3 linked regions of the Homo sapiens genome follow. The protein of the gene in region 1 interacts with the protein of each later gene in a biochemical or structural test. Each region holds a gene or a part of one and is shown in the gene's direction. Other genes may lie near its edges. The genes, in order: NOSTRIN, MAST1 and LNX2.

Region 1 (2,350 bases):
AAGCTGTGAGTGAGTTAAACTTTTGGCCTGTGAAATCAGGGATAATGCAGAGACATTGTCTTGATCTTAAGAAAAGACTGTTGGTGAGACATACTTATAGCAGCCAACACGCCAAACAATCAAAAACACCAGCATGTGAAACCCTCAAAGTACGGACACCAAGAAAGAGTTTGGTGACAATCCATCAGCTACATAGAAATAGAAAGTGAGCCAGGCAGCATAAGGATATATGATCCAACGTGATCTTTTTTTATTTTTTTTTTTGAGGCAGAGTCTTGCTCTGTCACCCAGGCTGCAGTACAGTGGTGTGATCTTAGCTCACTGCAACCTCCGTCTCCTGGATTCAAGTGATTCTCCTGCCTCAGTCTCCCAAGCTCACTGCAACCTCCGTCTCCTGGATTCAAGTGATTCTCCTGCCTCAGTCTCCCAAATAGCTGGGACTACAGGCGTGTGCCACCATGCCTGGCTAATTTTTGTATTTTTAGTAGAGACGGGGTTTCACCATGTTGGCCAGGCTGGTCTCAACCTCTTGACCTCAAGTAATCTGCCTAATCTGCCCATCGCGGCCTCCCAACGTGCTGGGATTACAGCTGTCAGCCACCGTGCCTGGCTGTGATCCTGTTTTTTTTTTTCTGAGACAGAGTCTTGCCCTGTTGCTGTTGCCCAGGCTAGAGTGCAGTGGCATGATCTCAGCTCACTGCAACCTCTGCCTCCCGGGTTCAAGGATTCTCCTGCCTCAGCCTCCTGAGTAGCTGGTATTACAGGCGTGCGCCACCACACCCAGCTAATTTTTGTATTTTTAGCAGAGAAGGGGTTTCACCATGTTGGTCAGGCTGGTCTCGAAACTCCTGACCTTGTGATCCACCCACCTTGGCCTCCCAAAGTGCTGGGATTACAGGCGTCACCCACCACGCCCAGCCAATCCTGTCTTTAAGCAATTATTTTATGATATATCTCAGTTGTTCATTATCTTACTCTTTTTAGTATCCTCTGGATTATGCCTGCTTTATACACAGGTGTTCGATACATTTGGCTTCATCTGAATCAAGTGCAGAAAATGACACTACCAAGTAAATCCTTGAAGCAGAACCTCCTTAAAACTCTTATCAATCGGGCTGAGGCATGTGTTCACATCACAGAGACCCATTTGTCTAACTGTATTTTCACAGGTGACATTGTGATTATACACGAGAAAAAAGAAGGAGGATGGTGGTTTGGATCTTTGAATGGGAAAAAAGGCCATTTTCCTGCCGCTTATGTGGAGGAGTTACCTTCAAATGCTGGCAACACAGCTACAAAGGCATAAAACAAGACTCTGAACATACTACCTTCACACTCGGTAATCAACAATACAGTGTGGTTCAAATAAGAATAAAGTGCTCTTACCTTTACATGTTTTTCTTTTGAAATGGATGGAGTTCTACCTGCATGTCACAGCACTTTGCATTCATGATTATTAGCTTGAAACAGTCAGAAAAAAGATGGATGGGTGGAGACAGACAAGGAAGAGGCTCCTTGGTTCCTAGAGGAGTTTCCAAATTCTAGGAGACCCTAGAGATGATCCAGTATAACCCCTGGTGTCACAGAAACAGACGGAGTCCAAGGTGGGTTCAGCTGCTTGCCTGAAGTCAGAGTTATCTGGTAGACAACAGCAGTGGGACTTAGATGTCTTTTTCCTCTGGATTTGGGTGGCAACAGAACACAGCAGGCCTATGAGGGGGTCAAGCAGAGCCTGGGAGATGAGGAACACAGATCAATTCCAAGAAGAGAGACAGGCAATCAAGACACCAATGAGATCAACCCAAATTAGGGGATGGTAGGATATCTCTGACAAACCCACAGCCAATATCATACTGAATGGACAAAAACTGGAAGCATTCCCTTTGAAAACTGGCACAAGACAGGAATGTCCTCTCACCACTCCTATTCAACATAGTGTTAGAAGTTCTGGCCAGGGCAATCAGGCAGGAGAAGGAAATAAAGGGCATTCAATTAGGAAAAGAGGAAGTCAAATTGTCCCTGTTTGCAGATGACATGATTGTATATCTAGAAAACCCCACTGTCTCAGCCCAAAATCTCCTTAAGCTGATAAGCAACTTCAGCAAAGTCTCAAGATACAAAATCAATGTGCAAACATCACAAGCATTCTTATATACACCAATAACAGACAAACAGAGAGCCAAATCATGAGTGAACTCCCATTCACAATTGCTTCAAAGAGAATAAAATACCTAGGAATCCAACTTACAAGGGATGTGAAGGACCTCTTCAAGGAGAACTACAAACCACTGCTCAATGAAATAAAAGAGGACACAAAGAAATGGAAGAACATTCCATGCTCATGGGTAGG
Region 2 (3,130 bases), on another chromosome or scaffold:
CAACCTCTGCCTCCTGAGTTCAAGCCATTCTCCTGCCTCAACCTTCTGAGTAGCTGGGACTACAGACAGGCGCGCGCCACCACGCCCAGCTAATTTTTGTATTTTTAGTAGAGACGGGGTTTCACCATGTTGGCTAGGATGGTCTCAATCTCTTGACCTCGTGATTCACCCACCTCGGCCTCTCAAACTGCTGGGATTACAGGCGTGAGCCACGGTGCCTGGCCGAGACTGTTTCTTCATCTGCAAAATGGGGAGAATAGGCCAGGCGCAGTGGCTCAGGCCTGTAATCCCAGCACTTTGGGAGGCTGAGGTGGGCAGATCACTGGAGGTCAGGAGTTTGAGACTAGCCTGGCCAATATGGTGAAACCCTGTCTCTATTAAAAATACAAAAATTGGGCCGAGCGCGGTGGCTGTAATCCCGGCACTTTGGGAGGCCGAGGAGGGTGGATCATGAGGTCAGGAGATCGAGACCATCCTGGCTAACATGGTGAAACCCCCTCTCTACTAAAAATACAAAAAATTAGCTGGGCATGGTGGTGGGCGCCTGTAGTCCCAGCTACTTGGGAGGCTGAGGCAGGAGAATCGCTTGAACCCGGGAGGCGGAGCTTGCAGTGAGCCGAGATTGCGCCACTGCACTTTAGCCTGGGCGACAGAGCAAGACACCATCTCAAAAAAAAAAAAAAAAAAAAAAAAAATGGCCAGGCGCGGTGGCTCACGCCTGTAATCCCGGCACTTTGGGAGGCCGAGGTGGGTGGATCACGAGGTTAGGAGTTTGAGATCAGCCTGACCAACATGGTGAAACCCCATCTCTACTAAAAATACAAAAAAAATTAGCCAGGCGTGGTGGCAGATGCCTGTAATCCCAGCTACTCAGGAGGCTGAGACAGGATAATCGCGTGAACCCGGGAGGCGGAGCTTGCAGTGAGCCGACATCGCGCCACTGCACTCCAGCCTGGGTGACAGAGCGAGAGACTCCGTCTCAAAAAAAAAAAAAAAAAAAATTAGCCGGAGGTAGTGGCGCATGCCTATAATCCCAGCTACTTGGGAGGCTGAGGGAGGAGAATCGCTTGAACCTGGGAGGCGGGTGTTGTTGCAGTGAGCCAGGATTGCGCCACAGCACTCCAGCCTGGGTGACAGAGTGAGACTCCGTCCAAAAAAAAAAAAAAAATGTGGGGGGAGGAATAATAACTATTTCACAAGGTGTTATGAGGATTCTAATGCATGCAGAGCTAAGTGTCCTGCATATAAGTTTAGGAGCTTTCCTTGTTACCAATCCCACTAACCCTGTCCCTATGGGGTGCTCTTTTCCCAGCATGTGGAGGAAGGAGGCCCAGCCCAGGAGGCAGGACTCTGTGCTGGGGACCTCATCACCCACGTGAATGGGGAGCCTGTGCATGGCATGGTGCATCCTGAGGTCGTGGAGCTGATCCTTAAGGTGAGTGCAGGGAAGGAGGCACCCTGGGCGGAGGGTGGGGGAGGCCTGAGCAGCCCCTAGCAGAGCATTTTCCCGCATTCTTCCCCCAGAGTGGCAACAAGGTAGCAGTGACCACAACGCCCTTCGAAAATACCTCTATCCGCATTGGTCCCGCAAGGCGCAGCAGCTACAAGGCTAAAATGGCTCGGAGGAACAAGCGACCCTCCGCCAAGGAGGGCCAGGAGAGGTGGGCACAGCCGTAAACAGCCTGGTCTTTGAGCAGTGGGTGGAACTTAGGCGGGAGGGGCACAGATGAGGATGGAGAAGGGAAGAGCACGGGAAAGGTGGCGGGAACAAATGACCAACAAGCAAAGGGAAGAGGACAATTAAGAGGGGCTGCGGGCTGGGCGCGGTGGCTCACGCCTGTAACCCCAGCACTTTGGGAGGCCGAGGCGGGCAGATCACGAGGTCAGGAGTTTGAGACCAGCCTGGCCAATATGGTGAAACCCCATCTCTACTAAAAATACAAAAATTAGCCTGGCATGGTGGCGCTCGCCTGCAGTCCCAGCTACTTAGGAAGCTGAGGCAGAAGAATCCCTTGAACCCGGGAGGTGGATGTTGCAGTGAGCCAAGATTGTGCCACTGCACTCCAACCTGGGCAACAGAGTGAGACTCCATCTCAAACAAACAAACAAACAAACAAACAAAAAAAGAGGGGCTGGGATGAGTCACACCTGTAATCACAGCACTTTGGGAGGCTGAGGCAGAAGGATCACTTGAGCCCAGGAGTCAAGATTAGGGGCAACATAGAGAGACCCCATCTCTACAAAAAACTTAAAAAACTAGTTGGGTTTGGTGGCACACACCTGTGGTCTCAGCTACTCGGAGGCTGAAGTGGGAGGATTGCTTGAGCCTGGGAGGTCGAGGCTGCAGTGAGCTATGATCTCACCACTGCAGTCCAGCTGTGACAACAGAGCTAGACTCTTTCAAAAAAAAAAAAAAAAAAAAAAAAGAGGGGCTGTAAAAGTGGAAGGAGCCAAGAATGGAAGCTGTGCCAAATTTCTAGGATCAGAGAAAAGCATTGTAGGAGGGTCTTGCACATATAGGCAGGCCCAGGAGATGTGAACTGGAAAGGGAGATGTCCAGAGACGGAGGGGGTCCAGGAGATGGTCCTATCCTGTTAGATGTGTTTAGACAGAACTGGGAAAGGCTAGAATAAGAAATGTCTATCTGGAATGAGCATGCCAGGCAAGGTTCAGCCAACTGAAATCCTATTTTCCCTTATAGATAGGAGGAGCTAGGTGGGAGGTGGGTGGGGCCAGAAGGGTATTCTGTTTGTTTGTTTGTTTTTAGTATTCTGTTTTGATCAGTGAGTTTGGCCCAGACAAGTACAGGGATTTGGGTGAGAGGAGCCAGACGGGGTTGAGATAAGTACATTTCTTCCCACTCTTATAGGTGGGTTGTAGTGGAAGAGGCGGGACTAGAGGCAGGTGGGACCAAGTTGGTTTTGTTTGGATGTGTTTCTAGCCTGGACTGGGAGTGGCCAAAAGGTTGGGCAGGACCTGAAGTGGGAGGAGGGAGGAGCCAAGCAGCACTGAGTTAAGGGAAGTTCTGTCTTGATAGGTGGGTTGTAGTGAAAGACGGAGGGACTAGAGGGGTGGGCAGGACTAGAAGAGGTTGTTTTTGGCCGGGCGAGGTGGTTCACACCTGTAATCC
Region 3 (3,661 bases), on another chromosome or scaffold:
ACTCCAATAATGGCAATCTTACATCTAGTTTAATGATTCAAATTGATAAGAAAAGTCTGAGCACATAATCTGATTAATGAATTCACAAAGGGTCTCTCCTATTATAGGCCCTGACTTCTGGTTGGCTTTTAACTGGTGTGTTGGAGCCAAGTAAAGCCACCCCCCTTTCCCACATATGGACTATTTATGGTTATTCAAGAGTAAACACTTGGAAAGAGGCCTATTGGTATTTTTTACTATCTGGTTACCTCCAACTTTGTATAAGCTAAATAAATATAACACAGTGAGCCAATTTGAAAATCTCGAAGAGGCAGTAAGATGGTTGATTTGCAGACCAGAGAGCTAGCTTGCATTTTCATTTTTGCAGACCATATACATAAGCAGTGTGTGGCTTTGGTGGTTTTCCCACATTTATATATATTTATTTACATATACAAATGTTATTAAATAGCCTCTTTGAAAAGGAGAACCATATGCTGTTAGAGCTTTTTGCTACTCTTAGAGTTTCATATGCAGCCTCTTTGAGCAGTTTTGAAGAAAAAAAAATACTGCTATTATAAATTACCTCAATATCATTAATAAAAGTAATATAACTTAGAACATTATTAAGAATAAGTATTTTCAGTTTAATGAAGTCATCAATAATGGCATTTTCAGTTCTGAAGGAAAATAATTACAGCTGTTGATTGATAAAAAAATACATTTAGCTCAAAAATGAGATAGTTTGCTATGCTGATGTTATTTTTACAAAATCTAGAAACAATATTTTATTTGGTTTCTGCTTTCTCTGAATTTCACTGGCAACCATGCATTCCTGGAGGAAAAATCTTTTTCCAGTTGTAGAATATTCCCCAGCCTGCTTCACAAAGATGTTATGAGGCTGCATGTTTACACATGGCTGGATTTTAGCCAGACGTTTTGTAAAGTCATTTGTGATATGTGTGATATGTCTGAATATAAGACAGAAAAATGTGAACCTACAGGTAGGTAGCTTTGTAGCTAAATAGTTGGAAATGGTGGTTTGACTAATGAATCTATATCTGCGTGGATTTTTAGAAGCTGCTTTCTAAATATAATAGAACTTCAGAAGTTCCATTCTTGACCCTGTATTATTCAATACTTTTACCAAGGACTTGGATGACTACCAAATTAATAGATGTTGCAGACTTGGGAGAAAGCAAGTTTGTGTGTGACATCTGTGCATTTGGTGACTGAATTCTGAAAGGTGTTAATAGGTCAAAATCAACAAAATTCAAAATAGTATTTACAACTATCAATCCTAAGTCAATAGGAAGAGGAAAGTCTTGCCTAATGTGGATTTGTGTGAAAAAGATGTAAGAATTTTAGGTGATCATAAACACCTAACTCAGAGCCTGTCATATAACAGATGGTCAGAGGATGTTGGTTTCATCTCAGACCGATTCAGAGAAGAACTCTAATTGTGATAAATGCTAAGAATCATGCTCATCTCTTGTAACTAAAGAAATAATTGAAGTTAGGTGTATTTTCTAAGTGCTGTTACATACCCAAGGATCAGTCACTATACTTTTTTTGAGATTATAAAGGTGAATACATAAATGTTATATGAGTATTGAATAATGCATTAGATATACATTATATTTTACTTTTAATGGTAAAAACCGTAATTACTTTTGCACCAACCTAATATTTCTGTGCTGAAGAATTAGAGTGAAATTACAATTAACCTGGTTTTCTTTCAGGTAAAAGTCACTTATCTAAAATAAGTTTGTATACCTGAAATGTGCTACTTTCCTTAAAATAACAATTTATTTTCTCTAGCTTAAGTGTATTTAATTTGGAAGAAGCAAATTTGTAATCTAGTAAAACTTAAATTTCTGTTCCACTAGAATTAGTATTTATTTCATTAGCACTTGCCCCATGTTAATCTGTTCATTCTCATACTGATCCCATGAAGTAAACACATTTTACAGATGAGGAGACTCATTCAGACAAGTTCTATAATTTGCCTAAGTTATCAGTTAGTAAATGGTAGTACCTAGGACTCTAATTCAAGACCGTCATTAAAGCCCGTGATCCTAGCTACTATTCTCTCCTTGATGCTAGTCACTGTAAGTTAATATTAGAAACTCTGTTTTTAAATGTCTTTAATGTGGTTTTCTTTGTAAATAATGATTGTATAGCATTCTCACCATACTTAGCACTCTCACAATACTTAGTTTCCTGTGGAAATGTCACATAAACATTCCTACAAATTGGAAAAATAAAAGGTTGTCACACTTCGGTCACAATTCTTTTTTTCTAGGTCAACAACTACAATATCAGCAATGTGTCCCATAACTATGCCCGAGCTGTCCTTTCCCAGCCCTGCAACACACTGCATCTTACTGTGCTTCGAGAGAGGCGCTTTGGCAACCGAGCACACAACCATTCTGATAGTAACTCTCCACGAGAAGAGATTTTCCAAGTGGCTCTTCATAAACGGGACTCTGGTGAACAGCTTGGCATTAAATTGGTGCGAAGGACAGATGAGCCAGGGGTTTTTATTCTTGACCTGTTGGAAGGGGGGTTGGCTGCCCAGGACGGCAGGCTAAGCAGCAATGACCGAGTGCTGGCCATCAATGGGCACGACCTGAAGTATGGAACTCCGGAGCTTGCTGCCCAGATTATTCAGGTAAACCCTCTTGGCCTTCATTCCAAAGGCTTGGCCGAAATGATCATATAGTAGTATTTGTTTTCACTGGCCAATAACATCAGAATTCAGGGGACATTTTATATTTCATTAGAAAATCGGGTGTGGCTACCTGAATTCTTTAAAATCCACACTAGTATAACTTCATTGGAGATAGTCTTTTCTAAAAACTATATCCCTGTGAATTTTGGGGATGGTTATTTACAGAGCGTAGGCTCTACTGTTTCACATTCATTTCTCATTTGGGTCCTGGGTTCTACTATTAAGCCAGATGTAGCAGATGATATGTCCACCTTTTAGAAGTGAGGAAAGGGAGGCTCAAAAGAGCTGTGATTACCAAGGATCTGACTTACCTGGTCTCTTAACTCCCTGTCAGGATCTATATAAATAGAGGAAGAATAACTCTTATCTCTATAGTGCTTTGTTGTTGTTTCTAAGGAATTCACAGTGTTTAAAATACATGATAAAATTTGTCCTCATAGCATCTTTGTGACATAAGTAAGGATAGTCATTATTAGAGAAAGAACATGTTTTTCATAAAAGCATGAAGATGGATAAGTTGGAAAGTCATCCAGAGGAGATCTATACATTCTGCAACATGCCATAGCATTTAATGATATGAGCAACTTCTACAGTGATAAGGGTGCAACAAAAAGATGTTTTTCTTAAAGTTAGCAAAACAAAACACTGTAAAGGAAACCAAGAATTATGTAATTGAGGATCAGGAAGTAGGGTAGGCCGATAGTCATTGAAGAATGTGTTTACAACACAGAATCAAATAACAATGAAAATTTAAGACTATAAGAAAATTCAAGTCTCAACTCTCTTTATTGTATTGAGAGGAGATTCTGATATTGGTCTAATTTCATAGACTTGAGGTTTAAAGAAATTGGATGCCTTAAAATTTCCTCAAATCAAAGGCAACATTAGGACCTATATCTGTGGGTATTAGCCAGCAGCTGCACCACTAAAACCCAGCTCATCTTGTAA

What was found.
Region 2: the proteins of NOSTRIN (region 1) and MAST1 interact in a test that uses a peptide from one of them, tested with the Homo sapiens proteins (one large-scale study listed by IntAct).
Region 3: the proteins of NOSTRIN (region 1) and LNX2 interact in a test that uses a peptide from one of them, tested with the Homo sapiens proteins (one large-scale study listed by IntAct).

The regions. Positions count from the first base shown.
Region 1 is NC_000002.12:168,863,665-168,866,014, forward strand, and holds the end of NOSTRIN (nostrin), read left to right. Parts: exon of another isoform or gene 1-1,169; coding exon 1,170-1,306; 3' UTR 1,307-1,721; coding exon of another isoform or gene 1,722-1,732; 3' UTR 1,733-1,850; downstream 1,851-2,350. UniProt on the Homo sapiens protein: Multivalent adapter protein which may decrease NOS3 activity by inducing its translocation away from the plasma membrane.
Region 2 is NC_000019.10:12,869,512-12,872,641, forward strand, and holds part of MAST1 (microtubule-associated serine/threonine-protein kinase 1), read left to right. Parts: intron 1-1,312; coding exon 1,313-1,435; intron 1,436-1,524; coding exon 1,525-1,661; intron 1,662-3,130. UniProt on the Homo sapiens protein: Microtubule-associated protein essential for correct brain development. Appears to link the dystrophin/utrophin network with microtubule filaments via the syntrophins. Phosphorylation of DMD or UTRN may modulate their affinities for associated proteins.
Region 3 is NC_000013.11:27,561,405-27,565,065, reverse strand, and holds part of LNX2 (ligand of Numb protein X 2), read left to right. Parts: intron 1-2,284; coding exon 2,285-2,653; intron 2,654-3,661.